Linked DNA regions of Homo sapiens. The protein of the gene in region 2 interacts with the protein of the main gene of each other region in a pairwise test. Each region holds a gene or a part of one and is shown on either strand. Other genes may lie near its edges.

Region 1 (7,000 bases), on a different chromosome or scaffold from region 2:
AGGTCTTCAGCTAAGTCTCTTCAGCCTGCGGGATTAGAACTTGGGACATTGGCTCTAGTGGGCTGTGTGTAGATTCTTTGATTGATCCTTTTGCTTTGGCTGTTTCCACAATATCTTGAGAGTTTCCAAGGCTTTTCCTAACATGCAGAAAAAGCACGTAGGAGGCTGGTTTGCAGGCTTCTTGGAAGTGCAAAGAGAACTTGCAGATAACCTGTGCTGACTCAGTTGAGGAGGAAGCTGTGAAGAGGAACCCTTCCTCCCTCAGTTCACACCCAGATTTTTCAGGATGGGTAGAGTGGGGGGCACTGGGATGCCAGATATAGCCTCTTGTTTGGTTTTCGTACTTGTTTAAAAACAAGGCTGGGCACGGTGGCTCATGCCTATAATCCCAGCACTGTGGGAGGCTGAGGGGAGCAGATCATGAGGTCAGGAGTTCGAGACCAGCCTGACATGGTGAAACCCCGTCTCTACTAAAAATACAAAAATTAGCTGGGGGTGGTGGTGCACGCCTGTAATCCCAGGGGTGGTGGCACGAGTAGTCCCAGCTACTTGGGAGGCTGAGGCAGGAGAATCGCTTGAACCCGGATGGCAGAGGTTGCAGTGAGCTGAGATTGCGCCACGGCACTCCAGCCTGGGCAACAGAGCAAGACTCCATCTCGAAAAAAAAAAAATTAAAAATAAGACAAAACAAAAACACTACCTGTGTTACAGTTAGAGCTGAGGGTATAATTCCAGCACAGTTTTGCAAAGGACAAGAGTAACTAAAATTTAGATATTTTGTAAGTATAGGATTTTTTTTTTACATTGAACCTGTTAGTCAATCCGTGGAACCTCTGCAAACCTACCTTGCCTAATTCAGTCAGAACTTTCCTTTCCAGAACAGTTACGTGGCTATAAGAACAGATCATTGAAAGCAAATTTGCCCTTAAAATTTTCACTAGATTGATTTTCTTAAAGGGGAAACAGTGAGACAGATATCCTTTAAAATGAATGTTTAAGCACCTGCATTCTGGCCATAAGTTATTGTTTTATTTGTTTCCGAATATGTGTATTTCTCTGACTGGCCATCTGTAAGGGTTTCTTGCATCCCAGGGAAGTTCTGTACTTTTGGAAAAATGGGGTCAAATCTGATATGTGTTCGTCCGTTCACCTTTTTTCTTTACATGTTTGGTTAATCACAATCAGAAGGTGAAAATGAGAGGTTATTTATAGAACTGAACCAGTGGTCCCAGCTCTTTACAGAAGACACTTGGCATGTTGCCTGTCACTTCTCAGGGGTGGCCATGGCTGCTTGAGAGTGAGCTCCCCAACACGTCATCACACACCTACACCTGTGCCATAAGGAGGGGTAAGATAGGTTGAGGGGAGATAGGTTTGGGGACTCATCCAGATCCTGTGTTCTGTGATTCTCAGACTTGAGATTTTAATCCTAGTTTCGGCACTCATTTCCTTAATTTAGTCCATTGAAACTGTCAAATCAAAATATAAATTTGCCATGGTAATTAGAATGATAAAAAGTGCTCAGATTTTGGGAGGCTGAAGCGGGAGGATTGCTTGAGCTCAGGAGTTTGAGACCAACCTGGGCAACATGGTGAAACCCTGCCTCTATAAAAATTGAAAAATTAGCTGGGCATGGAGGTGCACACCTGTAGTTCCAGCTACTTTGGAGGCTGAGGCGGGAGGATTGCTTGGGCCCAGGAGTTTGAGGTTCCAGTGAGCTATGATTGCACCACTGCACTCCAGCCTGGGCAACACAGCAAGATCCTGTCTTATAAAAAAAAAGTGCTCAGCTTTAGTGAGGCAGTAGTGATGGGATGGGTTTTTGGCATATCATAAAATATTTGAGGATTTTTTTTAGGTTCATTTTGTTCTGATGATAGAAGCAATATTATTTTAGAAGATATAATACAAACCAGGATACCAGAAATTCCTGAAATCTTGTCACCTAGGTATTCTGATTTTAAATATATATCTCTAGTCTTTTTTCTCTGCATTTACATAATACAGTTGATCCTTGGACAACATGGAGTCTAGGGGAGCCTAGCCCCCACACAGTCAAAAATCCACATATAACTTTTGACTCCCCAAAACCTTCACTTCTAACAGCTTACTGTTGACCAGAGTCTTACCAATAACATCAACAGTCGATTAACACATATTTTGTATTTTATTTGTAACATATACCGTATTCTTATAGTAAAGTAAACTAAAGGAAAGAAAATGTTAAGAAAATCATAGGAAAGAGAAAATATATTTACTATTCATTAAGTGGATGCGGGTCATCATAAAGGTCTTCATTCTCATCCTCTTCACGTTGAGTAGGCTGAGGAGGAGGAAGAGGAGGAGAAGGGGTTGGTCTTGCTGTCTCAGGGCGGCAGAGGCAGAAGAGAATCTGAGCATACGTGGACCTACAAAGTTCAAACTCATGTCGTTGAAGTGACAACAGCATTTTTCCCCACAAGTCTAGTTTCTATGTACAATTTTATCTTCTCTCTCTCTATATATATATACATATGTAGACATAAATATAAATATATAATATTTTTTTTTCATTTCATTTGAATCTTTTTTAAAATAATGGCTTTAATGATGATATAAAATTACATCACATGGGCTGGCCATGATGGCTCCCCGCCTGCAATCCCAGCACTTTGGGAGGCCGAGGCGGGTGGATCACCTGAGGTCAGGAGTTTGAGACCAGCTTGGCCAACATGGTGAAACCCTGTCTCTACTAAAAATACAAAAATTAGCTGGGCGTGGTGGCAGACTCCTGTAATCCCAGCTACTCGAAAGGCTAAGGCAGGAGAATCACTTGAACCTGGGAGGTGGAGGTTGCAGTGAACCGAGATTGTGCCATTGCACTCCAGCCTGGGTGACACGAGTGAAACTCTGTCTCAAAAAAGGAAAAAATAACAACAGTAAAAATAAAAGTACATCACATGGATGTGGTACATTTAATTTAACCAGGTACCTGTTAATGGTCACCTAGGTTATTTTGTCATCTTTTTCCCCCTATAATGTGGCATTGAACATTTTAGTACCTTAATCTCTGTGTGTTTTTAATTCTTTACCTAGGATAAATGTCTCTATGTGATATTAGGATAAAAAATGATTAAAAAATTAGAAAGTTTGTACCAATTTTAACTAATGAAAATGTTTGCATTGGCTGGGCACAGTGGCTCATACCTATAAATCCCAGCATTTTGGGAGGCTGAGGTGGGAGGATTGCTTGAGTCCAGGAATTCAAGACTGGTCTGAGCAACATAGTGAGACCTCGTCTCTACAAAAAAATATTTTTTAAAAATTAGCCGGACATGGTGGCTCATGCCTGTGGTCCTAGCTACTCGGGAGGCTGAGGTGGGAGGACCGCTTGAGCCCAGGAGGTGGAGGCTGCCATAAGCCATGTTCATACCACTTCACTCCAGCCTAGGTGACAGAGTAAGACCCAGTCTCAAACAAAAAAAAAAAAAAAAGAAAAACTTGTATTATCTTTTCAATTTTTTTCCTAATTCAATAAATAAAAAACAGACATTGTTTTTCATCTAAATTTCTTAAATTAATAATAAGGTTGAACATTTTGCATATTTATAGGCCACTTTAAAATTTTTTTTCATGAATTTTCTATTCATGTTCTTTGCTTATTTTTCTATGTGGAATATTTGACTTTATTATTGCTTTGTAAGAACACTTTACATATTAAGGTATTAGCTCTGCTGCTATGCTTATTGTAAAATATTTTCACAGTTTGTCTGTAGTCTTTTTTTGTTTTACTTATCGTTTTTACTTAAAGAAAATATAGTTTTTGTTAACTCAGATTTATCCTCTTTCAGCATGATTCTCTTTGCTTTTTATTCTTATAGAGCCAATTTTTTACTTGTGGAAAAAACAAATATTCACCTATGTTAAAGGCTTAAGAATACGAAATTGCTGGTTGTTTTTATTTTATTTATTTTTATTTTTTTTGAGACAGAGTCTTGCTCTGTGGCCCAGGCTGGAGTGTGTGATCTCTGCACACTGCAACCTCCGCCTCCCAGGTTCAAGCAATTCTGCTGTCTCAGCCTACAGAGCAGCTGGGACTACAGGTGCATGCCACCATGCCCAGCTAATTTTTGTAATTTTAGTAGAGATGGGGTTTCACCATATTGGTCAGGCTGGTCTCAAACTCCTGACCTCAGATGAACCACCTGCCCAGCCTCCCAAAGTGTTGGGATTACAGGCGTGAGCCACCGCCCAGGCCTGCTGGTTCTTTTTAAAAGAATGGTATCCTGACATTTAAAAACCTACCATAAACTTAATGAAAGCAGGTTTGTGTCTATCTTCACTATTGAATCCCAGTATCTTGCTTGATGCCTGCCATATAGGAAACACCCAATCCCTATTTGTGGGATGAATCCATTTCTTTTTATCAGATTATAGCAAATATAAAGCCACAATGAGATGTCACGTCACACCCGTTAGGATGGCTATTTTCAAGAAGACCAAAGAAAATAAGTATTGGCAAAGACGTGGAGAAAAGGGAACCCTTGTCTCCTGCTGGTGGGAATGTAAATTAGTACAGCCATTATGGAAAATAGTAGGGAGGCTCCTCAAAAAACCACAACTAGAACTACTATATGACCCGGCAATCCCACTGCAGGACATATATCCAAAGGAATTGAAGTCAGTGTATCGGAGAGTTATCTGTACTCTTATGTTCATTGCAGCGTTATTCACTAAGCCAAGATACGGAATCAACCTAAGTGCCCATCATTGGATGAGTGAATAAAGAAAACATGGTATATAAACACAGTGGAATACCATTCTACCTGAAGAAAGAAGGAAATCCTGTCATTTGTGCCAACGGGGATGAACCTGGAGGATGTTAAGTGAATAAGTCAGGCACAGAGTGACAAATATAGCATGATCTCACTTATATGTGGAATCTGAAAAAGTCAAACTCATAGAAACAGAGAGTACAGGGGTGGCTACCAGAAAGTGAGGGTAGAGGGACTGGAGAGGTATCCTTTGGCCAAAGGATACAAAATTTCAGGTAGACGGGAGGAATAAATTCAAGAGATCTGATGTACAATATGGTGCCTATACTTGGTAATGATATGTTATATATTTGAAAATTGCTGAGAGTGGATTTTAAGTGTTCTCACTGCAAAAAAAGTGTGATATAATGCATGTTAAATAGCTCGATTTAGCCATTCCACAATGTATACATATATGGAAACCTGTTGTACACCATAAGAATATACAATTTTTACTTCTCAATTAATAAAGAGAGGCAGAGAGGCTCACACCTGTAATCCTAGCACCTTGGGAGGTCAAGGCAGGAGGATGGATTGAGCCAGGAGTGTGAGACCAGCCTGGGCAACATAGCGAGTCCTGTCTCTACAAAAATTTTTTAAAATTAGCCAAGCATGGTGACTTGCGCCTGTGGTCCCACTTTCTTGGGAGGCTGAGGTGGGAGGATCATTTGAGCCTGGGAGGTCGAGGCTGCAGTGAGCTGTGCTCACGCCACTGCGCTCCAGCCTGGGCACAGAGCAACACCCTATCTCTAAAAATACGTAAATAAATAGTGTCCCTCAGGACAGCTATCTGTGGAAGACACCCTTTTAGTCAAATAGATTTGGGAAATTTTAAAACAGTATATATGCCCTTTTGATTATCCTCTGTGGCACATTTGCCAACGGAAGGCCCCAAGAAATGCTGACCAAAAAACCTGTGCATTTAGTTTTAAAACTAGTGGGTTTCATACTCTTTTGTTTGTTTTAACCTTGAAGCACCCCCCACCCCCCACCGCATCTCGTCCCCCCACAACATAATCTTCTCTCAAACGCATGTTGTGCTGGACCACACCAGAGTTAATCCTGACCTGTAGCCAGGTGGGCATAGATAAAAGGAAATATTGTTTGCCAGTCCCTGCTGGAATGATGCCTTTACACATCTGTCTGATCTGATTGCTCCACTGTTTTCTTTCTTCTCTTCCCTTTCCACGGTTCTAGCCTGTTCATCTAGCCCCATGATGGCTGTGGACATCGAGTACAGATACAACTGCATGGCTCCTTCCTTGCGCCAAGAGAGGTTTGCCTTTAAGATCTCACCAAAGCCCAGCAAACCACTGAGGCCTTGTATTCAGCTGAGCAGCAAGAATGAAGCCAGTGGAATGGTGGCCCCGGCTGTCCAGGAGAAGAAGGTGAAAAAGCGGGTGTCCTTCGCAGACAACCAGGGGCTGGCCCTGACAATGGTCAAAGTGTTCTCGGAATTCGATGACCCGCTAGATATGCCATTCAACATCACCGAGCTCCTAGACAACATTGTGAGCTTGACGACAGCAGAGAGCGAGAGCTTTGTTCTGGATTTTTCCCAGCCCTCTGCAGATTACTTAGACTTTAGAAATCGACTTCAGGCCGACCACGTCTGCCTTGAGAACTGTGTGCTCAAGGACAAGGCCATTGCAGGCACTGTGAAGGTTCAGAACCTCGCATTTGAGAAGACCGTGAAAATAAGGATGACGTTCGACACCTGGAAGAGCTACACAGACTTTCCTTGTCAGTACGTGAAGGACACTTATGCCGGTTCAGACAGGGACACGTTCTCCTTCGACATCAGCTTGCCCGAGAAGATTCAGTCTTATGAAAGAATGGAGTTTGCTGTGTACTACGAGTGCAATGGACAGACGTACTGGGACAGCAACAGAGGCAAGAACTATAGGATCATCCGGGCTGAGTTAAAATCTACCCAGGGAATGACCAAGCCCCACAGTGGACCGGATTTGGGAATATCCTTTGACCAGTTCGGAAGCCCTCGGTGTTCCTATGGTCTGTTTCCAGAGTGGCCAAGTTACTTAGGATATGAAAAGCTAGGGCCCTACTACTAGTGACTGCAGGTGACAGGGCGTGGCGGAGCTGCCACAGACAAGCCTAGCTCTGCTCACTGTGCAGTGGAGATGGAAGGCCAGGGAGGAGCAACGTGGAACTTCCATGAGGCCCCGTTTGGGAAAATAAAAGGATCC
Region 2 (10,138 bases):
GTGGAGGGGCAACCCAGCCCTTCAATAGATTCTTTTTCCTTTAATGTCAGTGTGTTAAAATCATTAATGTCACTAAGAATATCTGTTGACACACCCCAGTGGAGGGAGGGCATCAGTTCCACAGTGTCATTCCAGCTGGTGGGCTCTTTATTCCCTCGAGCTTTATAATTACCAGCCTCTCAAAAATAATGCATTTGTTATTTATCTCTGTTTCCTGAAAGCCTGGGTCTGTGTTCATTTGCAAACACGAAATTGACCAGCACAGATCTGCCAGTGGCGTTGCTGGGATCCCAGAGAGATTTTCCCTCCGCACCTGCGGTCTCAAGGGCCGGCGGTGCTTCTGAGTCACTCATTTCACCAGCGATCAATGAGACACTCTTCAGGTCCTCAAGAAGCTTAAGCCTAGCCGACCAAAAATGTCTGTTTTCCACACCCCGCTTCTAAGTCCCACAGCATCTTCTTCCATTCACAAGACATCTTTCATCTCTTTTTCTGAGGCAGATGACAGGGGACTTGCTACAGACAGAATCTTAAATACCTATTTAAAGAACTTCAGGCTGGGCACAGTGGCTCATGCCTGTAATCCCAACACTTTAGGGAGACCGAGTTGGGTGGATGGCTTGAGCCTATGAGTTCAAGACCAGCCTAGGCAACATAGAGAAAGCTCATCTCTATAATAAATACAAAAATTAGCTGGGCGTGGTGGCATGCACCTGTAGTTCCAACTACTTGGGAGGCTGGGGTGGGAGGATAACCTGAGCCTGGGAGATCGAGGCTGCAGTGAGCCGTGATCACACCATGGCATTCCAGCCTGGGCAACACCATGAAACCCTGTCTCAAAAACAAAAAGATAAAAGAACTTTAAAGGTAATGTATTATCTCCAGCAACACAGAATAGCTCCCTACAACAGTAACGAAACCAGAACCAGCATCCATCCCTTCTTAGTGATTTTTTAAAAATTACCTCCCAAAAGGAGAAGACAGAGACGTAGAGGACAGTCTAAAACAGGGATTCCCTGATGCTGAGGTTAGCAGATGCTCTGGCCTGATCACTGCTCTGATCCAGGCTGCCAGAACAATCCTTTCTCTTAGAAGGGCAAAACTGCTTTTCAGCTTTATATAAAATAAAAGCATAGCCCAATTTCTTTCCATTTTGCCTGTTCTGAAGCCTGGCAGTTTTGTTGCTAAAATGGAAGATGAAGCTGAATCCAACTCTTGGTTATTTACAGAAGGAAAAAAATCTTTTCCCCAGCCCATGTTAGGGTCTCCAGCTAGGGGGCCTCTAATTACACCAGCCAAAGACAATTCAATCAGGCAAGAAAAAAACAAGTTTATTGGCATGTGCATTGCACTTACATGTGGCAGTACCTGGCAATGAATAACCCAAAGTGTGGTCAGGACTTGGGTTCATCTATCATCTTAGGCTGACATAAAGGAAAAGGCCTGGAGCTTCTGGGCAGGGGAGGCATGTAGTGGGAAGGTGTCTTGGTCTATTTGTGCTGCTGTAACAGAATGCCACAGACTGTGTAATTTATAAAGAAAAGTGGCTTATCTGGCTCATGGTTCTGAAGACTGGGAAGTCCAAGAGCATGGCATTGGCATCTGGTGAGGGCCTTTATGCTACATTGTCCCATGGAAGGAGGGTGGAAGTACAAGAGAGGGTGAAAGAGACAGAACAAGAGAGGGTCAAACTCATTTTTATAACAACCCACTCCCACAATGGCATTAATCTATCCTTGAGGGTGGAGGCCTCATGGCCTAATCACCTCTGAACAGTCCTACCTCTTATACAATGGCAATTAAATTTCAACATGAGTTTTGGAGGGTATATTCAAACCTCAGCAGAAGGTGCCCAGGAAAAGTATGGTAAACAAGGGTTGTTTAGGAAGGTTTGTTATGCAGACTTAAGTCAGTACTTTCTTCCACTGATAAGAGTTGTTACAAGATATCCTCTTCCTTGCATGGAAGAGGGAGACGTGGAAATTTCCTTTATAATAAATGTGAATTTTTTTTACAAAATGAAAATGGTTTTTAGAGCCTTTCCTGTGGTCTGCTGGTTCTTAATGGCCTTTAATTCAAAATAATCCACATGCGAAGAGGCATATTTTGGGGTGGTGTATCCCAATGCCCCTCAGATGCCTCTTTTGTGAACTGTCCAAGTGGATGCCCACCTCAGGACCTTTGCATTTGCTATTCCCCCAGATTCATTCATGCCTTTTTTTTTTTTTAGATGGAGTCTTGCCCTGTCGCCCAGACTGCAATCTCGGCTCACTGCAACCTCCACCTCCGGGTTCAAGCGATTCTCATACCTCAGACTCCCAAGTGCTGGGATTACAGGCATGCGCCACCACGCCCAGCTAACTTTTGTATTTTTGGTAGAGACGGGGTTTCATCATGTTGGCCAGGCCGGTCTTGAACTCGTGACTTCAAGTGATCCACCCACCCTGGCCTCCCAAAGTGCTGAGATTACAGGTGTGAGCCACTGCACCTGGTCCATTCTTTCATTTTTTTTTTTTAGTCTCAGCTGAGATATCACCTCCTGTAACTAACAGCTCAACCTGCTTTTCTTTACAACACTTAAAACTATCTAAAAATTATTTATTTGAAAATGATGGCCAGGTGCGGTGGCTTACGCCTGTAATCCCAGCACTTTGGGGGGCTGAGGCGGGCGGATCACCTGAGGTCAGGAGTTAAAGACCAGCCCAGAAACATGGTGAAATCCTGTCTCCACTAAAAATACAAAAATTAGCTGGGCATGGTAGTGAGTGCCTATAATCCCAGCTACATGGGAGGCTGAGGCAGGAGAATTGCTTGAACCCAGGAGGCGGAGGTTGCAGTGAGCGGAGATTGCACCACTGCACTCCAGCCTGGGTGACAGAGCAAGACTCCATCTCAAAAACATTAATAATAAATAAATAAATAAATTACCTGAAAATGGCTGAGATAATTAATACTGGGACTCATTTAGCCACTTCAGCAATATTAGCGGCCAGAGGAGGTGAGGAGACATGATGGTGAGAGGGCTCCTTCCTGCGTCAACCATGCGCATTATGAAGAGTCACATCATGAAGATTCAGTATTGGACTAAGTGCTGCAGGAGAGGGGAAGGACCATGGCAGCTCCCAGGAAGAGGAAATGACATCTGGGTAAGATAACTGTTAAAGAAAAAAAATAATCAATAGCATTTGTTAAAGCATGGTACCAGACTTTATTCACAACCATCATGATAGGTACAGGGACCACTGCAACGGGATCTTGCAGCAGGGGAGAGAGATTGGGCTCAACTCCGAAAACAGCATGGGCAAGTGGGCATTTATAGCCAAGGACTGGGGGAGGGGTCAGTGGATGGACAGTTACTAAGAGGACACTTCAGGGGTCCAGGTGATTGTGTCTAAACCACCTCATAGGATTCCTGTTGAAGGCAGGCCAGGGTGATTGGACAGCATGGGGGATGGTGGAGCATGGGGAGCCTGATCAGATGTCACCAAGGGGGATCAGACATCAGGGGCAGGGAATCCTGCTAAATTGACAAAGCAGGGATTGCTAAAACAGATGTCACAGGGAAGTGTATGATGGCCCTACAAGGCTCAGAAGCCTGACTAGAGTTTGGTCAAAGAATTTTTGTCAGGATCATGGAAAATTTAATAAAGTGTAGCTATGAAAGAAAGGACTTAAAATTTATTTAACCAGAGTAACAAAGAATTAAAAGTCAATCCAGTAAGAGAATATATAGGCCTTAAATCAGCATCCATTAGTGAAGTCTGTGGCCTCTAGTTTTTCTTACTAAAACTTACTCCACTTACAAAAGAAATATTGTGGAAAAAACAGGAAATACAAAATGTATGGAGAAAATAAGATAACCCCCCTGATAATTCTTCCATTCAGAAATAACCAGTGTTTAGGTTTGGATATACACCTGTGTTTCTAACACAGTAGTCCCTAGCCACATGTGGTTATTTAATTTAAATTTAAATTGACTAAATGAAAGTAATATTCAAATCATTACTGTCATTTCTGCATTACATCCTTATTTTTGTGTTTCATTTATCAGTATTGTGTCATCAATCACACCTTCCTAGCTAGCTATTAAAACAGTCATTCCTTTTAGCAGCACAATGGTTTATGATATTAACTTTGAGCACAGATACATTTTTCTGGGCTTGTGCAGTGGAGCAGGGCTTGGCTGGGGTGAACCTTGGCTGTTTCCCTTATTAGCTGTGTGGGCTTAGGGAAGAGTTAACTTCTCTGTGGCTCACCTTCTCCATTGTCAAGCGGGGGTAATAGCAGGCTATTTGCAGGGATCAGGAGTTAATACGTGTACACTGCAAGTAATGATCAATAAGTGTCAGCGCCTCCATTCTTTGCCAGGTGTGCACCACAGCTGGGGGATTAAACTTTACCACACCACAGCAGATAACATATTTGCATAACTTGCTTTTTGTCTTCTTAAGCTTTCCTTGAACTCAATTCCCCAGAGTGGTAGAAGTGGTCATAGGGCACTATCATTTTTATGACTTCTGAATTGCCAGATCACCCTCAGAGAGATTGCATCAGTGTTCGGAGCTTGCAGCCAAGCTCGACCCCACAGCCCTGCCATCTGTGCCCGAAGTTCGATCTTGTTGGCTCCAGAATCCCTAGGACATAGTGCAGGAGTGAATCCCGAGCTGGAGCTGGGTGGGCTGTGGGGTCATTCCAGATTGATTAACCTCCGACCTCTGAAGTCTGCAGCTGGAAGGGGCTCCAGGTAAGAAGATAACTTTGAAGCATCACACCAGGAAACCTACTGCACCTGGACTTTCATGACATTTCCTGCGGGCAATTTTTACCTCCACGAAATTCAGTAACCTTTGCAGCCCCTTCAGCCCAAGACCACCAGGAGCAAACCTGTGGTCCACAAAATCGGGTGTACTGACCCACTGCAATGAGGGAGCGCCTCCCAAGAACGAAGGGAAAGGCAGAGTTTGAAGGGGTTGAGGGAAGGCAGAGTTTAGGTGACCTTTACATGAAGCAGGGTTCCCACAGGCTGAGGCCAGCAGGACTGTGTTCCGCGGGGCCAAGTGTGGGAAGCTGTGTGCAGACGCCCCCTATCTGGAGCTGCAGCCTGGATTGGGATGACAGAGGCTAAGTCTCGGTTAGTGGCTGAGCTCCCCGGCCAGACGGGCATGTTTCCTTCTCCCTGCTGTAATCTCAAAGCGGACAGCGTCTGCCAGGTGGTTTCGGGAACAGGGTTTCTCCGAGGGCTAGGGGGCTGCGGTCCCTCCGAGGCGGGGTCGTGGTGGCATTTGGCTGTGGCTGCCTCGCGCCCTCGGGAACGGGCGTCTCCAGCTCGCTGGCAGCTGGTTTTCTCCACGTCTGTCATCGGCCTGGAGTGGCAAGCAAATAGCTGGTATTTTCAGAGCCGCCCTGCCCCGGACAGAGAAGACCGGGCCCAGCAGGCGTTGGTGGATGCCTTTCAAGCTGTAATCAGTTTCCCCGAACGTGTACCAGGTCTCGGCCACAGCCCGAGCCCAGCGCGCTCCCGCGGGGCACCTGGTGACCCGGTGCAGGGCGGGAGGGCCGGTCCCAGGAACCCGAGGGCCGGAGGGCAGGGCCCCCTTCCCGCACCGTCCCCGGGCTGGCAGGAGCGGCCACGACGGCACGCTCCGAGGCCCCGGGTCCCTTGCCCCCTCCAGTCGCTCCCACTTTCTGCCGGGCTTGCCCAACGAGGGGGCAAACACCACGCTCAGGTGGCGTGGACAGGTCGCTGCCGCCTCGGACTACACCAGAGATCTCAGCTATGAGCCTGGACGCCCGCCCCGCCCTCCCGAGGCCCCGCCCCGCCCCCCGAGGCCCCGCCCCGGCGCGGCGCGCAGGCGCGGTCCATCCCGCCCGCAGAGCCGCAGTGCCGGGCGCCAGAGCAGCGGCGCCAGAGCAGCTGCACCATCCCGGCGTTCGCGTGTGCCGCCGCTTTCCTCCTCCATCTCTTTTCCTCCGCCTCCGCCGGCGCGATGGCGAAGCCGCTGACGGACAGCGAGAAGCGGAAGCAGATCAGCGTGCGCGGCCTGGCGGGGCTAGGCGACGTGGCCGAGGTGCGGAAGAGCTTCAACCGGCACTTGCACTTCACGCTGGTCAAGGACCGCAATGTGGCCACGCCCCGCGACTACTTCTTCGCGCTGGCGCACACGGTGCGCGACCACCTCGTGGGCCGCTGGATCCGCACGCAGCAGCACTACTACGAGCGCGACCCCAAGGTGAGGCGCTGCCCCGCCCTGTGCGCCCGTGCCCGCTGAGAGGGCGCCGGTCCCGGAGCCGCGCCAGCGGGGGTCTCTGCGGGGCGGCCCGTCGGGCGTTACCTGCGCCCCTAGCCGGCCGGCGGCCAGGCACAGCCGACTGGGGAGTCGCCTGGAAGCCGCAGTCGGCGGGGCCCGGGCGTCCCCTGCGCAGGGCCGCGGCCACGGGTCCGCCCCACTGGGAGCCCGCGCCTGGCGGGGTCCGCCGTCCCCCGCAGATGATGCTGAGCCCGGGAGCCTGGCGGACGTTCCCGGTCTCTTTCTGGCCGTGCGCTTCCGCGCTGGCTGCAGAGCCGGTGCTCCCCGCCCCTGCCTCCAGCCACTCTTTGTTTTCCTGCAGCAGCCTGTGGGAGAAAATGGGACTGGAACCAGGCCTGGGCAGCCTTGTGGGTTGGAATGGGGTGAGCTCGGTAATCTGCAGGGAATTGTGAGACTTTTTTTTGTGTACGCTGCTTAGAAGAAAATCACTGAAGATGCCTGCTTCACGCAGGGAGGGGTACGAAGCTCAGAGATGGAGATGGAGCCCTCGAAGAAGGCTCTGTCTTAGAGGTTCCCACACCTCCCTTGGAGAAATTTGCTTGGGTTGAAGTTGACAGAGATCATCTTACTAATTGTTACTTTTTATATCTTGCAAAAATTTGTTTGAGTAGTGAAACAAAGTCACTGATTGTCCCCGTTACTCTTAACCATGTTTACTATGGGCCTGTGTTCTTGCTGTGTTTTTGGTATTCCTAAATATACATACACATTTTTAAAAAGTATAATGCACATACAGTTTTTTAGATTTTCTGTTTCATTCGTAAACATTTGTAACTTTTTCACTGATAAACAGCTTTGCAGGTCAATGGATAGGATGGTAGTTTTCAGTTTGATAGGTACATGGTAGTCTTGCACAGCCCCCTGTTGCCAGTTTTTTGTTGTTGTCGTTTGCTTTTAAACTCTTGACCATGGAGAATTGTCTTTCTACTACACTAACGTAGAGGGAGAACTGGTGAGGAAAAGACACACTTCCAGACCTGAAGCCACTTGGCAAAGATTTTACTTGCAGTGTACATCTAGGCAGTGAGCACTTGCTTTATGGATGGTATTTTAGAATATTTTTGTAGGGCATTAAGATATGTTTAATACGGTAATTGCTAAGAGATTGACTGCTTTTCCAAACTTATTCTGGGACATTCTTTTTTCTAAAATGGAGATGGTAAAAGGGACAGATTTGTTAGAATACCAACTGGGGCTCTTCATATTTGGTATGCAAAACATAGAAGTGGCAACGAATGGCCAAAACAGGTTATAACAAGGGCTTGGGATGACTTTGCCAGGAAAAGCAGCCAAGAAGCAGTGGCTCCCCCAGAATTCCCTGCTGTTGGGAGAGTTCTGATGCACAGCACCATTTTTTTTTTTTTTTTAATTCTGAGTCTTGCCCTGTAGCGTGAAGCTAGAGTGCAGTGGCGCGATCTCGGCTCAGTGCAACCTCCGCCTCCCGGGTTCAAGCAATTCTCCTGCCTTAGCCTCCCAAGTAGCTGGGATTACAGGCGCCTACCACCACGCCCGGCTAATTTTTTGTATCTTTAGTAGAGACGGGGTTTCACCATGTTGGCCAGGCTGGTCTCAAACTCCTGACCTCGTGATCCGCCCGCCTCGGCCTCCCAAAGTGCAGGAGTTACAGGCGTGAGCCAACGCACCCGACCCGCAACATCATTTTTATTGTCTAAGTGGCGGATGGCAAGGACATAGCTCTGCCTTCACATTCAAGGGCATTTCCTTGGAGCTGGACCAGGACTCAGCTCTACACCTTAGGGTGCCCATTGGAGTATTTATGTATAATCACATCCTGGAGAGGCCAGCGATGGGCTCAGGGATTACGGAAATGACCTTCATGAACAAGATAGTCCCTGCAACAAAACAGGTTTTTTGATCCTCCGTGAGATCTCTTTTGATTGTCTACGTGTGGTGGCTCTGGGTGGAAACCTTTCTCTTAAACCGCACAGTCTGTAAGTCGTAAAGTTGTAAACTTTTAGATCTCACAGTGTGTAAATAAGCTGTGTGCCTATTCTGAATAGGAAGGACATGGAAAATTGGGATTTAACTGCTTCTTTCGCTAATTCATGATGAAAATAAGCTTGCAATCCTTTCTTTGGAAAAGTTACATGCTTGCTGGTGATGGACCAGCAACCAGTCCCACCAGAGCCAATGAGAGGAGGTGTGCTCCCAAGAAAATAACTGCTGTGCCTCCCCCTCAGCCAGAAATGACCTCAGACATTCACCGGCACACTGCAGACTGTGGTAATGTGACACTCTAGAGCTCCTAAATAGAACGCTTTTATTGTTATTTTTGTCTTTTTTTAAATTATGCAAGTCCTGAAGGAAAAATTATTACTGGAGGAAAAATTAGAAAATATAGATAAGCCAGAAGGAAAAAAATTAACTGTAATCCTGTAACCCACTTCTATCGCCCACTTTGTGCTGTAAATATTTTGTGTTCTACATTGTTTTTTCCGTATTGGCAGAAACTTGTTTTTAATACATAAAATAACATTATACTGAACCTATTGTTTCATAACTCTTAGCACTTTATTTGTGGTACATAGCGAAAGAGTAGAAGTTGGGGTGTTCAGAGGAAGATTTGTCAAGCTTTGCCATGCTTGGCAAATCAGCACGTCAAAACATCTGGCTAACATGGAGAGCTTTGTGCTTGGCAAGAGGTGGCGGTTGGTCATGAAGACATTTAATGGATTCTCTGAAGTGGTGGCAAGGTGGCAAGGAGAGTCCAACCTGAAGCTGCAGAGCCTGGGATTGCGCTGCATGGAGAAGAAAGGGTGTGCGTGATTCCACGCTCCTTTTCATCCTGGCCTTTCCATTCGGTCTGTGCAACTGTGGGCTTGGGCGGATTTCTTTGCCATTATTGGCCTCAGTTTTCTCATCTTTAAAATGAGGGGAATCAAGCTGGTGATGTTTCCGAAGTCTGTTGCCATTCTGAAATGTTAGAGTTAAAATGTTTCTATTTCATATTGAATTGACATTCCATCTCTATCCAGAGAGAATTTGAGGATGCTTATGCTAGATACAGCACAAAAGGTTCACATTAGAAGGCCTCAGAGTGAGGGTTGGGGTGGGACAGTGAGGGTCAGGACACAAAACACAGACCAGGATCCTGGCAGTGAAAGCAGCCCATGCCCAGTTATGAGAGTCACGGGATCCCTTCTATAACATCCTGAAAGGACAGTTGCACGGTTTATTCTGTGGGCCTTTGTGAAGCTGTGTTGTCGATGTGCTGAGCCACTGACCTGCAGCACCCCTGCAGTGGATGTAACAATCAGTTTTTGAGACTCTTCCCATAAGCTCCTGGCATGACTACAACACAGATTAAGGAAAAGCAGCTCTACCTTGGGGCCCACACTGCTGTCCTAAATATTCCTAATGAGATAAACACAATGAAATACGATTAATCTTTTGGTTTGGCTGGACCCAGGAGTTAAAGAAGATGATCTAGAGAAGTGTTTTGCAGACCCTTCTGCTCTGTGATCCCCACTTCTGGGATTTGTTTTAATTAGTCAGTTGTGGTACCAGCCTCCGGAATCCTAACACTCCCAATTTTTCTGATGTATTTCCACTTTTATGTGTGAAGTTGAGCTTGCATCTCCTGGGCAGGCTTCCCTGACAGCAGATCGCTCAAAGTCATTTTCTCTGACCAGTAGCTGATGGTGGGTGCTGTTTTGTGTTGCTGACAGCTAGCCACTTGGAAGGTAGGCCTCAGCTGTCATTTTAGCAGATGGAGAAGCCTACAGTGTGTGCCTTCATTTTCTGCAGAAGACAGCCTGGCCTCTGCCCTTGCAGGCTGTGGTGGCTGGTTTTATGTGTCAACTTGGCTG
Region 3 (10,818 bases), on a different chromosome or scaffold from region 2:
TACATTGGTAAGATAGGTAGAGAGACAGATAAATGGAGAGATTTACATATTAAGATGTACTAATTTAAGGTTATGACTATGTTAATTATTTATCAATTAATGCATAAATTTAATGTAATTCCAAACAAAATTCCAGCTAGATTGTTTAAAATAATTTGACAAACTTATTCTCAAATTAATATGAAGGAGAAAATAGGAACAAAAGTATCCAAGAATTTTAGCTGTGTGCAGTGGCTCATGCCTATAAACCCGTAACTTTGGGAGGCCAAGGTGGGAGGATTGCTTCAGCTCAGGAGTTTAAGACCAGTCTGGGAAATACAGGGCAGGGCAACACCATCTCTAAAAAAAGATAAAAATAAAAAAATAAAAGAGAGAGAGAGAATAGTTGAATAATTGTGGGAATATTTTAAACAGACATGGAAAGTAAAGTCAGCTTTCATTGACTCAAATTTATCAGTCTTTTATATATGGCTTCTTTTCATTCTTTGCAAGGAATTCATTACTCTAAAATTACATGCATGGTGAAAGTTTTATATGTAAAATATATTGAAAATAAAACATACATATGTATCATATATGATCATATAGTAAAAGTAGATAACTCACAAATGAATAACTATAAGAAACTCAATGAACATGGGAAATCTGTTTATTCTTATTAATAATTGTGAAAATGAAATTAAAACTCCAATGGCCTATCATTTTTTTCTTGCTCATTTTAAATTGGAAAAAGTTGTTAATATCTGATTTTGGGGCAAGCGTATGAAACAGGTAATCTCATGTGGTCTTAGAAGAAATATATATTCCTACAGTCTTTGGAGGGCAATTTGATAGTTACTACCAAAAGCAAATTTACCCATGAATTGAGTAATTATCTTTACCTCCAATGTTTTTTCTCCATATCTATATTGATAACTACACAGAGATATAATAAGGATATTAATTGTAACACAGTTTGTTTTAGCACAAAAGAATAAAACCTCAAATGTGCATTAGTAAAGGAGATGTTAAGTAAATTATGGTATATCCATTCTACAAAACAAATGCAGGCATTAAAGAAAAGGATGCTATAAATTATCTCATGCTAATATCTTCAAGATATACTTTGAAACCTTAAATCCAAATGCTGGTACAATAAATATATTAAGAGATTAGTTATGTAAAATAATAGAAATCAATATATGCATGTTAGAGTCAAGAAAGATAGGCATGTGCCAGCAAAATGAAGATGAGTTCATGGACTACTTTAAGGTTTTTCTTTTTAAATCTTGTATTCTTCAAATGTTTGACAATAATATGTATCATTTAGCGCTGATACAAGAAGGAAGAAATAGGGAAAAAATATCTATTTTGCTTTTGAATAGAGACTCAATATTGAAAGATGATAGTTCTTCCTAAAATGTCTCTATGTGCAATGCAAACGAAATGCCTTAACTACAAAGACAAGTGCCAAAATTTGTCAAAAATAATTCTACATGTATATGAAAAAAAATCATGTTTAATATGTATGTATGCAGACACATGAAGAGAAATACAGATGTTGGGATTGGGCCACCATATATTAAAACTATTAAAATTGTATAGTATTGTTAGTCTTTATATAGGCAGGTCAATGGAAAAAATTCTGAAAAGTAAATATCTATCAATCTTTTAAAGTGGCATAGTCTTTTCCAGTGTTTGCTTTTATAAACATTTACCTATCATGATTTTTAGTATTTACATTATAATACTAAATCATCTTAAATTCACTTTAGGAAATGACATGATATTATATTCTACCTTCCTTTTCCCTGGAATAGTTAACCATCCTAGGACCATTTGCTATACAACATATCCTTTGCTCATTGATGTGGAATGACAATTTGGAGCTATGATTAAAACTAAAGTGTGTTTCTGGTATTTATTTATTTATTTAGAGACAGGGTCTCACTCTGTCACCCAGGTTGGAATGCAGTGACGCGATCTTGGCTCACTGCAACCTCAGCCTACTGGGTTTAAACTATTCTCATGCCTCAGCCCCCCGAGTAGCTGGGATTACAGGAGCATGCCACCACGCATGGCTCATTTTTTTGTATTTTTAGTAGAGACGGGGTTTCACCATGTTGGCCAGGCGGTCTTGAACTCCTGACCTCAAGTGATCTGCCTGCCTCAGCCTCCCAAAGTGCTGGGATTTACAGGCGTGAGCCACTGCACCCGGCCTGGTTTTGACTCTTTTGCATTGCCTTATCTGTCTCTTTCTCTGCTCAGTGCTACCCTAAGCAATTCTAATACTTTGGACATTTTTTCATTGTTTTCATTTTTAAGCCATAGCTTATGAACTGTTAAAAATGATTTATTAATCCAGTTAAACTTTAAAAACATTTTGTTGCTTTTGTCCGCATGGAGAAAACTAATAACACTTTTTTTTGTTGTTCGTTTTAAAGTAAGTAAGTTGCTTTATTGGTTACCAGGAATGACTGTATATTGCTGGTGAGTTGTTTGGTTTGCTTTCTTTTTTTTCTTTTTTTTAAGTTTTACTTTAAGTTCTGGGATACATGTGCAGAAGGTTCAGGTTGTTACGTAGGTACACATGTGCCATGGTGGTTTGCTGCACCTATCAACCTGTCATCTAGGTTTTAAGCCCCTCATGCATTAAGTATTTGTCCTAATGCTCTCCCTCCCCTTGCCTTCCAACCCTCAACAGGCCCTGTTGTGTAATGTTTCCCTCCCTGTGTCCATGGAATCACCAAATTTTGTTTGAAACTTAAAATCAATTTTGGAAGGAGCACCATATTTATAATATTGAGACTTTATGGACAAAGTATATAGCTAATTTATTTAAATGCTTTTTATGTCTTTTATCAAAATAAAGTATCTTAAACTATGGATCTCAGACATTTCTTGTTAAATTTATTATTGTGTAGTTTTCATTTTTAGTTGCAATTGTGAAAAAAATCATTGTTCTCTATATTGCCTTAATGGTTATTGCTGATGCTTAGGAAAAATGTTAATTTTTGCATGTTTACTAAAGTAACCAAAAGTTGATACCAACTTCCCAACTTCTATTATTAGTTATGATGATTATCCAGTTGATTATTTGGGGTTTTCAGGAGACAATATTATCAATTAAAAATACCATGCATTGCAGAAATGGTGGATATGAGCGTATTGTTCTGACTTTAACAGCTTTAATGTTTCATATTAAGCATGATGTTGATGTGGCTTTCCAGATAGATAATCAGATTTGCCTGTACACAAGACACAGAAAGACTGTGAGGTTGTCAATGAGGAAGTTTTTTTTTCACTGTTCCTTACCACTGCCTTCTTCAACAGATGTTCTTATTTTATTTCCTTACACGTGTAATATGTTTGTAACATATTACTCTGTCCTACTAAGAGGGTCAAAATGTCTTATCCCTTAAATCTTTAAGTTTCACTGAGATTTTCCAATAAACCATCAAACTTCAAGTCACCGATCTATCTTTTTTCTTTCATTTCACGTGTGCTAGTATCTGCTGCATGGAGATTTTATTTTAGATGCATATTAATCTTCTGCTGCTGCCTTGCAATTTGATCTTAAGCAGAGTATTAAAGGAGACAGGGAACATTTCAGAAGATGCACAATTCTTGTATATATTGAATAGCACCCATTACAACTACTGATGAGACGTTCTCCTGAAATTAATTCATAATTGATATTCTCTAATGAGTCCTCAGAAATCAGATTCCTGTAAAATACTAAGCATTTTGACATCATGAACATCTAATGACACAGAGTCAACATGATGGTAGTCTTATTTCTAAGATGTCTTTGAAATAAACACTCGCATTTAGCTCGCTAGATTTTAGCTTGAGATAGTTTATCAACAAACCGATACAAAGACAAGATAAGAAGAGATTATTCTGAAGTTTCAAGATTCTCTCTGTCTCTTCTTCTATCACTGATTCCATTCTTTTATTGCTTTCACTTTGTCTCAATCTTCTTGAGAGTTCATTCTTCCTCCAAAGAAAACTTAAATTTCATATTCTAAACAACTTTAAATCAACACTCTGAAAAGTAAATAAACATGACTTTTTATATTGCTGACAACTTTAAGTTAATGCATTGATATAATATACACATTCTCAAATTTTTAAGAAAATGTATTTTTTGAGATTTTGAATAAATAAAATATGGCCTAGAAGCTATACTTGGAACAACCAATGACTTGTGATCTTTTTAAGACATTTCTTAGTTCTATTTTGAGATCTTGTTTTTCAGTGATTCTGTCATATCAGTTTAGTACAAACCTTGAAACTCAGAAAAACTTTTACTAAAATAACTGCCTGGTCATGAGTAAGATTAAGTTGCAATAGAACAAACAGAGAGATTGGCTAAAAGAAAAGCAAAACTTACTTAAACTCAGCATAACATTTTAGATGGTATATTTTTACATTATTATAAAATTTAAAATTTATGTTAAAATATACATTGTCACACTCATGACTGAAAATAGAGGGACTGAGGAAGCATGCAGAATGGGAGAAAAGTAGGGAAACATCTTTAGTCTAATAAAGAAAAGCTGCCTGAGTAATCGGGTCTTTCTTAGGCAGAACTGTGCTTTGGGCAATGTTTGTTTTTATCCATTCCCGTGGCTTCCTTCTGCCCTCAGCACCTGGTATCCTTATCTGACCTCTTGGCTTTCCAAAGTAGAGAAAGGTCTCTATTTTGACAGATCAGAGCTCTATATTTTCATATTTTTCCTATCTCTTACCATTAAAATTTGGCCATCCATATTTATTCTTAGGGTTCTGGTATATGATTAGTTGAAAACAGATGGTGCCTGAGTCAGGACATAGCTCCGTGAAAAAAGGAGATTTAGCACAGGCTATGGTAAGGAGAATGGTAAGGAAATCTTACAGAATTGCAACTGAGTTAGGCCTAATGGCTCGTTTCTGCTTCCCTCTGCTATTTTCTCTGTTCTCTGCTTCCTTTCTCAGCCTCTGTTAACCCCTCAGGAAGGCATCCAATTGTCTTCCTTTGTCTTTATCCTTGCTTCCTTCATTGTTAATTGGCTTCATCACTGTTTAATTTTTCAGAAAAACACCTTGATTAGCCCCACTCATTTTTTTTTTCCTCATGATAGCTCACTAGTTGCCAGCCTGACATACACATTCCCTCCTTGAGTGCCTGCCCCTTCTCCATAAAATGTGGCTACAGCTGACAGGAACCCAGGGGATCTGGGACTCTTGGCAGGGCAAGATTTCCTTTGAAGAGGCTATGGGCAGGGAGGCAATGCTTGTATCTGAAACAGATGTTTTGGGACATTCGGGAGTCTTGAAGCTCTTCAGACGCCGGGGCTCCCCTGCTGAGTGACTGGTGGGTTTGGCAGCACATTTTGCTTCCTTTAGCTAATCCAGTGGGTTTCAGAGACGCAGAGGGAATAAGAGGAAACGGATAATGCTTTCCTCAGCATCAGTACTACACTTGTAAGTTTCCCTTAAGAGTGTTCCCCCCTTCTGAAATGGTAATGACATTCTGACGAGAGATTCCAAGACGTCTTAACTTCCTAGCGTGGTGTCGTTAAACACTGACCGACACACACATCCCTTAATGTGTTTTATTGATTATGTAACTTATCTAAAAAGATAGGTCAGCTCAGGCGAGGCCTCCCTCACACACTTTTCTTTCAATATTGGTGGCTGATAGATCTGCTTGCACGTGTATTGATACGAATGGCCTTGGAAAGAAAGAAATCCCGTCCTCTGTTTAAAAAACTCTGCAAGAATTAACAAGGATAAGTGTAAGGAGGTCAGTTGTCTGTCCCCAGGTGCAGAACCTTAATCTGAAAAGCCCCAAGCAGCTGGTTACCTAGGATTACACAGACCTGGTAGCTTTTGCCCTCTGCCTCTCTTTCTAGTACACACGCGCACGCGCACGCACAGGCACACTTTCCCTGATACTTTGGACATTTATTTTCCATTGTCAAACTTTACTTTCTTTTGGACATTTGGTTTTGCACTTGAATTGTTGGCATGCATAGTCAGCTTGTCCCCTTTTCTCCATCTGTAACGTTATTCAAACAGGCGTTCAGACAATGTCTTCATGAGTTTAAGATGTTTGTTTCTTTTGGACCAACACACACTCGCTAGTTCAGTCTTGCTCTCTCTCCTCTCTCCCCTGTCTTTCATGCAAACATACACCGAGTCCTTCTCCACGTGTACCAATGAATGTCTCCTCCGAGGGCTCTTGAGTTCAATGTCACGCTGGGCAGAAGTAGAGCAAGAGTAACGAGCATGTGTGGAGAGCGGACGGGGAGAGACCCTTTCTGGCCAACAGAGGGCAGCCGAGGGGAGGCGCTGGGGCGCGAGGGCTGAGCCGAGCTGAGCCTCGCCTAGCTCCGGCAGCCTCAGCTTCAGCACCAGCCGCACCGGAGCCCGGACCGCAGCCACTAAGGGCAGCGGCGGCGGCGGGAGCCAGGCGCGCAGCTAGCAGCGGCGCGGTCGGGAAGCAGCAGCCGCCGCCGCCGCCGCCGCCGCCGCGACGGGCAGCTGGGCTCGCCGGCAGCCGGCTCGGGCCCCTACCCTCTCGGCTACGTGTCTCCGGCGCCGGGCGGCCGGCGAGTCTGGAGCCCGCGCCGTCGCCGGCCGCGTCCTCCGGGCATGGAAGGAGGCGGCAAGCCCAACTCTTCGTCTAACAGCCGGGACGATGGCAACAGCGTCTTCCCCGCCAAGGCGTCCGCGACGGGCGCGGGGCCGGCCGCGGCCGAGAAGCGCCTGGGCACCCCGCCGGGGGGCGGCGGGGCCGGCGCGAAGGAGCACGGCAACTCCGTGTGCTTCAAGGTGGACGGCGGTGGCGGCGGTGGCGGCGGCGGCGGCGGCGGCGAGGAGCCGGCGGGGGGCTTCGAAGACGCCGAGGGGCCCCGGCGGCAGTACGGCTTCATGCAGAGGCAGTTCACCTCCATGCTGCAGCCCGGGGTCAACAAATTCTCCCTCCGCATGTTTGGGAGCCAGAAGGCGGTGGAAAAGGAGCAGGAAAGGGTTAAAACTGCAGGCTTCTGGATTATCCACCCTTACAGTGATTTCAGGTGAGGGCTCCCGGTCGCCGCCCCACCCTCCCTTCAGGCGCGCCCTGAAACGCGCTTCCCCGCCCTTGGGTGGGGGGCGTCCCGGGGACTAGGAGGGCGGGCGGGGGGTGGCGCTGCCGGCGGCGTCGGCTCGGGCTAAGCAGGCTCCACTCGGCGCCTCCGGGTAGTTTCCACCCAGGAGGGGCTCGGAGGATGTGCTCCTGTTGCCCGGGAATCCCGGACGGGCTCTCCTCCTTGGCCTCCTGAACTTCGGGGACAGATCAGGGAAGGATGGAGGCCACGGTCACCCTCCTGGGAGGAGGCGAAGTTGTACAAGGGAAACTTTTACTTCAGAGACGAGAGCGTGAGGAAGCGGGAAGCCACCCTTCCTCGCGCGGCTCCCTCAAGTGTGGTCTCAACCAGGAGGGAAAAGGAGGCTTCTGGGGCTCAGAAGAAGACTGGGTAACCGGAGACAGCGATTCACAAGCCCGAGCAGTTCCTGCCGCGCTCGCCCCTGGGGAGTGTGTTTAGTCTGTTTTTCTTTATAGGCGCTGGTTATCCTCGCTGTGTTTACTCAGAAACAGCGGCCGGCAGGCAAAAGAAGGGCAATTTGCACTTGGATAGTCCCTGACGTGAGGTCTCACCAAAGCCAGGCGCTTCCAGGCAGGGCAGGAGCGTGGCAGGAAGCCTCTAGTTCCTGAAACAGAGAGAGGGGGCGTTGACAGAGCCCCTTTCTGAAATAGAGCGGCACCCTTTCTTGACCTTGACTGCAAGTCTATTTCAAAAATCTTTTTCACGTCCTCCAGCTCGGGAAGAAGGACAGGAAAGCTGTCAGCAGGAAAACTCCGCTTTGGAGAATTAAAATTAAGACGTTTTCTGATCTTACTTGTCGCTCAAGTATTCGTTCGGTGATAAGCATATTTAGAGATTGTCAAATGAAGGTCGTGTAGTAGATCCTCTTATTAGCGTGTGCACGATTATCTTAGCTCCTGAACAAGGCTGGACTTCCCATTTTAAAATCCAGAACTAGTAACTCCTAATAACTCAGGGTGATATTTATTTATTTGGCCGAACTCGTTCGAAAAGAAAAGAAGAATCAACTAAAGGAGTATGTGCATATACTAAGTATTCTTTATAGGATAAATATAGCAATGTAAAGCAGCCTTGGAGTTAGTTTAGAAACTAAGGGAAATTGTCACCAACTACATGCCTTAACGGGAGCTGTCCACAGTTCTGAATGACATTAGCTGTGAAAAATCCACAGTCCCGCCACACAAAGGCTCAGAGTGACGGTCTTTGCCTTCTTTGAGATATTTATCGTCTCAGAAATCAGTAGCCTCCGTGATCTATGCAAAGAGTGAATGGATTTTAGAAAGTGTATAATTTTAAGGTACTTATTTGTAAAAACACACAGCAAAGTCCAAAGGAGAACTTATAAAACCTAATGACGTTTATAGTCTAGAGAACATTAAGAGTTTGATTGAAAGAACGTTCATTAAAAATTTTAAAAAAAAGAAAATGTTCATATTAAAAAGATGTAATAAATAATCAAACCTGTTTCCTCCAGTAGGAAGATAGGGAAGCAAACTTATAAATGACCCTGTTCTAAGATGTATAAGGTTGTCATGTTCTTTAGAATTTTAAAGGTGGGAATCAAGTATAGAATATTATCTTTTCCTCAGTCCCCAATGGAAATATATTTCACCTCATTTTAAAATTTTTAAATGAAAATAACTTACATGAAAAAAGTCTCCAGTCTTAATAGCAAAAATAAATGTGGTATTTCCAGAAATGTACCAGGTTCAATATTAACATGCAAAAATGCTGAACTTTTAACATTTAATTTCACTCAATAAAATGATTACATATGATGCTTTTATTTTTTCAGCAATGTGAAAAGGACTATCCCTTATCAAAATGATACCACACATCAAGTAATTAAACTTTTTCCCACTTGCTAAATAAAAACATAGGGCCACTTTTCAGGAATTAGAATAGCATGCGAAAGTCTTTTGAATGAATGGAATTACAGGATTCTCCTTATTTTCCCAAGGAAATCTTCTGAGACAAAATATCTCTTTAATAAAAACATTGTTACTGAACAAAGGAACAAATTGAAATCAGGTGATGATTTAATTTTATTATCCATTTCAAAGAAATGGGAAATGATTAAAAACTGAGCTAATACTCTAAATTCCAGTGTGGAGTAGTTTGGAATATTTGACTTTTCCCTTGTATAAATGGAAAAAAGAAAATGGCAGGCACAAATTAAGCAATTATCATTATTTAGATCTTTTTAAACTGAAAGATATCTGAAAAAATAGATTTTAAAACATAATTACAATATACACTGGTGTTCTAAAACAAACTGCAAAAATAATCATGTACTTGTTTACATTCAGAATATATTTACATCTTATTGTTTCATTTTTTTGTATGATCTCAAAACCAATATAAGATTTTCTAAAATCTATAACGTCAAGATAATGTAATGAAAGAACAAAAATAGGAAAGACAAAATTCTAGCGGTAGTTTTTTTCTACAGGGAAAGGAATGTGTGAGTAATTTTCAACAGATACTAGAAATTTTTGCGGTCATGATCTAGCCTTTACTTTAGGCCCTTTCCTGAAGGATTATTTCAGGGAGGTGCTTTACTACAATTCCTAAAATGTCAAACTTAAGTTCATTAATCATTTAACAACTGAGTGAATGACACTTAAGAGTAATTTCTATGAAGAGTGGGGAGTTATTACAAATGAAGATATCCAGAGGATTCTTTTCCTTGACACTTTTAATAAACCTTTACATGGCCAGAGAAGTTTACTATGTTCTTACTCCAGGGCATGTCGTGACTTTAACACTGTTTCTAGTTTCCCTGCTCACGATAATTTTTAAGACTGATAGCTTTCTACTTTACTTACCTCAAGGGACAAGGCTGTGCTCCCACTGAGACTTTCAGAGAGCTAGCTAGTGCCTCTTTTCCCCACCAGAGCCCAAGAGTGCTATTGCTGTGTCTGGCAGGTAGTTTTCTCTACCCCTGGCGTAAGTAGGGCAGAGTTGCTGTATTTACCTTTTTCCTCAGCAGAGGATGACAATAGAAACCTTCAGAGAGTAAAAAGCAGTCCAATAGTATAGGTACTGTTTGAAATAACTGGGTGGAAGCTACAGAATTTAGTAAACACAACAAGCTCATGTTTTTGTTTATGCTGTGGTATATAAGCACCCAAACTAGGGAAAATAGGGATAGTTACTTAAAAACAAATGTAGCTCGATTTTTCTGTAGTGACAGTATGGTCTTAGTCTTATTGAATTTCATGTGAACAACACATAGACACATTTAATTTGGAGGTTAAATATGATTTTTAAAAATTCATGGTGATTTTATATTAATTAGCTAGAATTTTACTAAGGTTTAAAAGTGATGCTTGGCAAGCATTGTGCTTCCATAGCCAATTGATAGTTATGATATAATCATTTAAATAGGTTGAAAGAATATTTAGAATACTTTTGTGGATGATTTTTATTATGCAAGCAATTTATCTTGGAAGAATTTATCACCAGACTATTTGCCATTTTAGGGATTCTGTCATTATTTTGTTCCATCATGCTTACACAAAGGGACTTTTAAAAAGAATGCTCCTTTCCATATGTATTGCCAGCCAACATCTTGCTCCTCATAACGGAGGCAGTTTTGTATCTTGACTTCTTATTTTTTTCAATTTCTTTTCATCATTAGTATGAGTGTGTGAAAAGCTTATTTTGTTGTAAGTACTCAAGGACTCTAGAGATGGGA

The links.
Region 1: the proteins of PYGB (region 2) and PPP1R3B interact in binary tests that used the Homo sapiens proteins (3 or more experiments, as listed by UniProt).
Region 3: the proteins of PYGB (region 2) and HCN1 interact in binary tests that used the Homo sapiens proteins (3 or more experiments, as listed by UniProt).

Annotation. Positions count from the first base shown.
Region 1 is NC_000008.11:9,140,659-9,147,658, reverse strand, and holds part of PPP1R3B (protein phosphatase 1 regulatory subunit 3B), read left to right. Parts: intron 1-2,148; exon of another isoform or gene 2,149-2,408; intron 2,409-5,860; exon of another isoform or gene 5,861-5,990; 5' UTR 5,991-6,007; coding exon 6,008-6,865; 3' UTR 6,866-7,000. UniProt on the Homo sapiens protein: Acts as a glycogen-targeting subunit for phosphatase PP1. Facilitates interaction of the PP1 with enzymes of the glycogen metabolism and regulates its activity.
Region 2 is NC_000020.11:25,242,192-25,252,329, forward strand, and holds the start of PYGB (glycogen phosphorylase, brain form), read left to right. Parts: upstream 1-5,893; 5' UTR 5,894-5,987; coding exon 5,988-6,230; intron 6,231-10,138. UniProt on the Homo sapiens protein: Glycogen phosphorylase that regulates glycogen mobilization. Phosphorylase is an important allosteric enzyme in carbohydrate metabolism. Enzymes from different sources differ in their regulatory mechanisms and in their natural substrates.
Region 3 is NC_000005.10:45,691,897-45,702,714, reverse strand, and holds the start of HCN1 (potassium/sodium hyperpolarization-activated cyclic nucleotide-gated channel 1), read left to right. Parts: upstream 1-6,334; 5' UTR 6,335-6,621; coding exon 6,622-7,046; intron 7,047-10,818. UniProt on the Homo sapiens protein: Hyperpolarization-activated ion channel that are permeable to sodium and potassium ions. Displays lower selectivity for K(+) over Na(+) ions.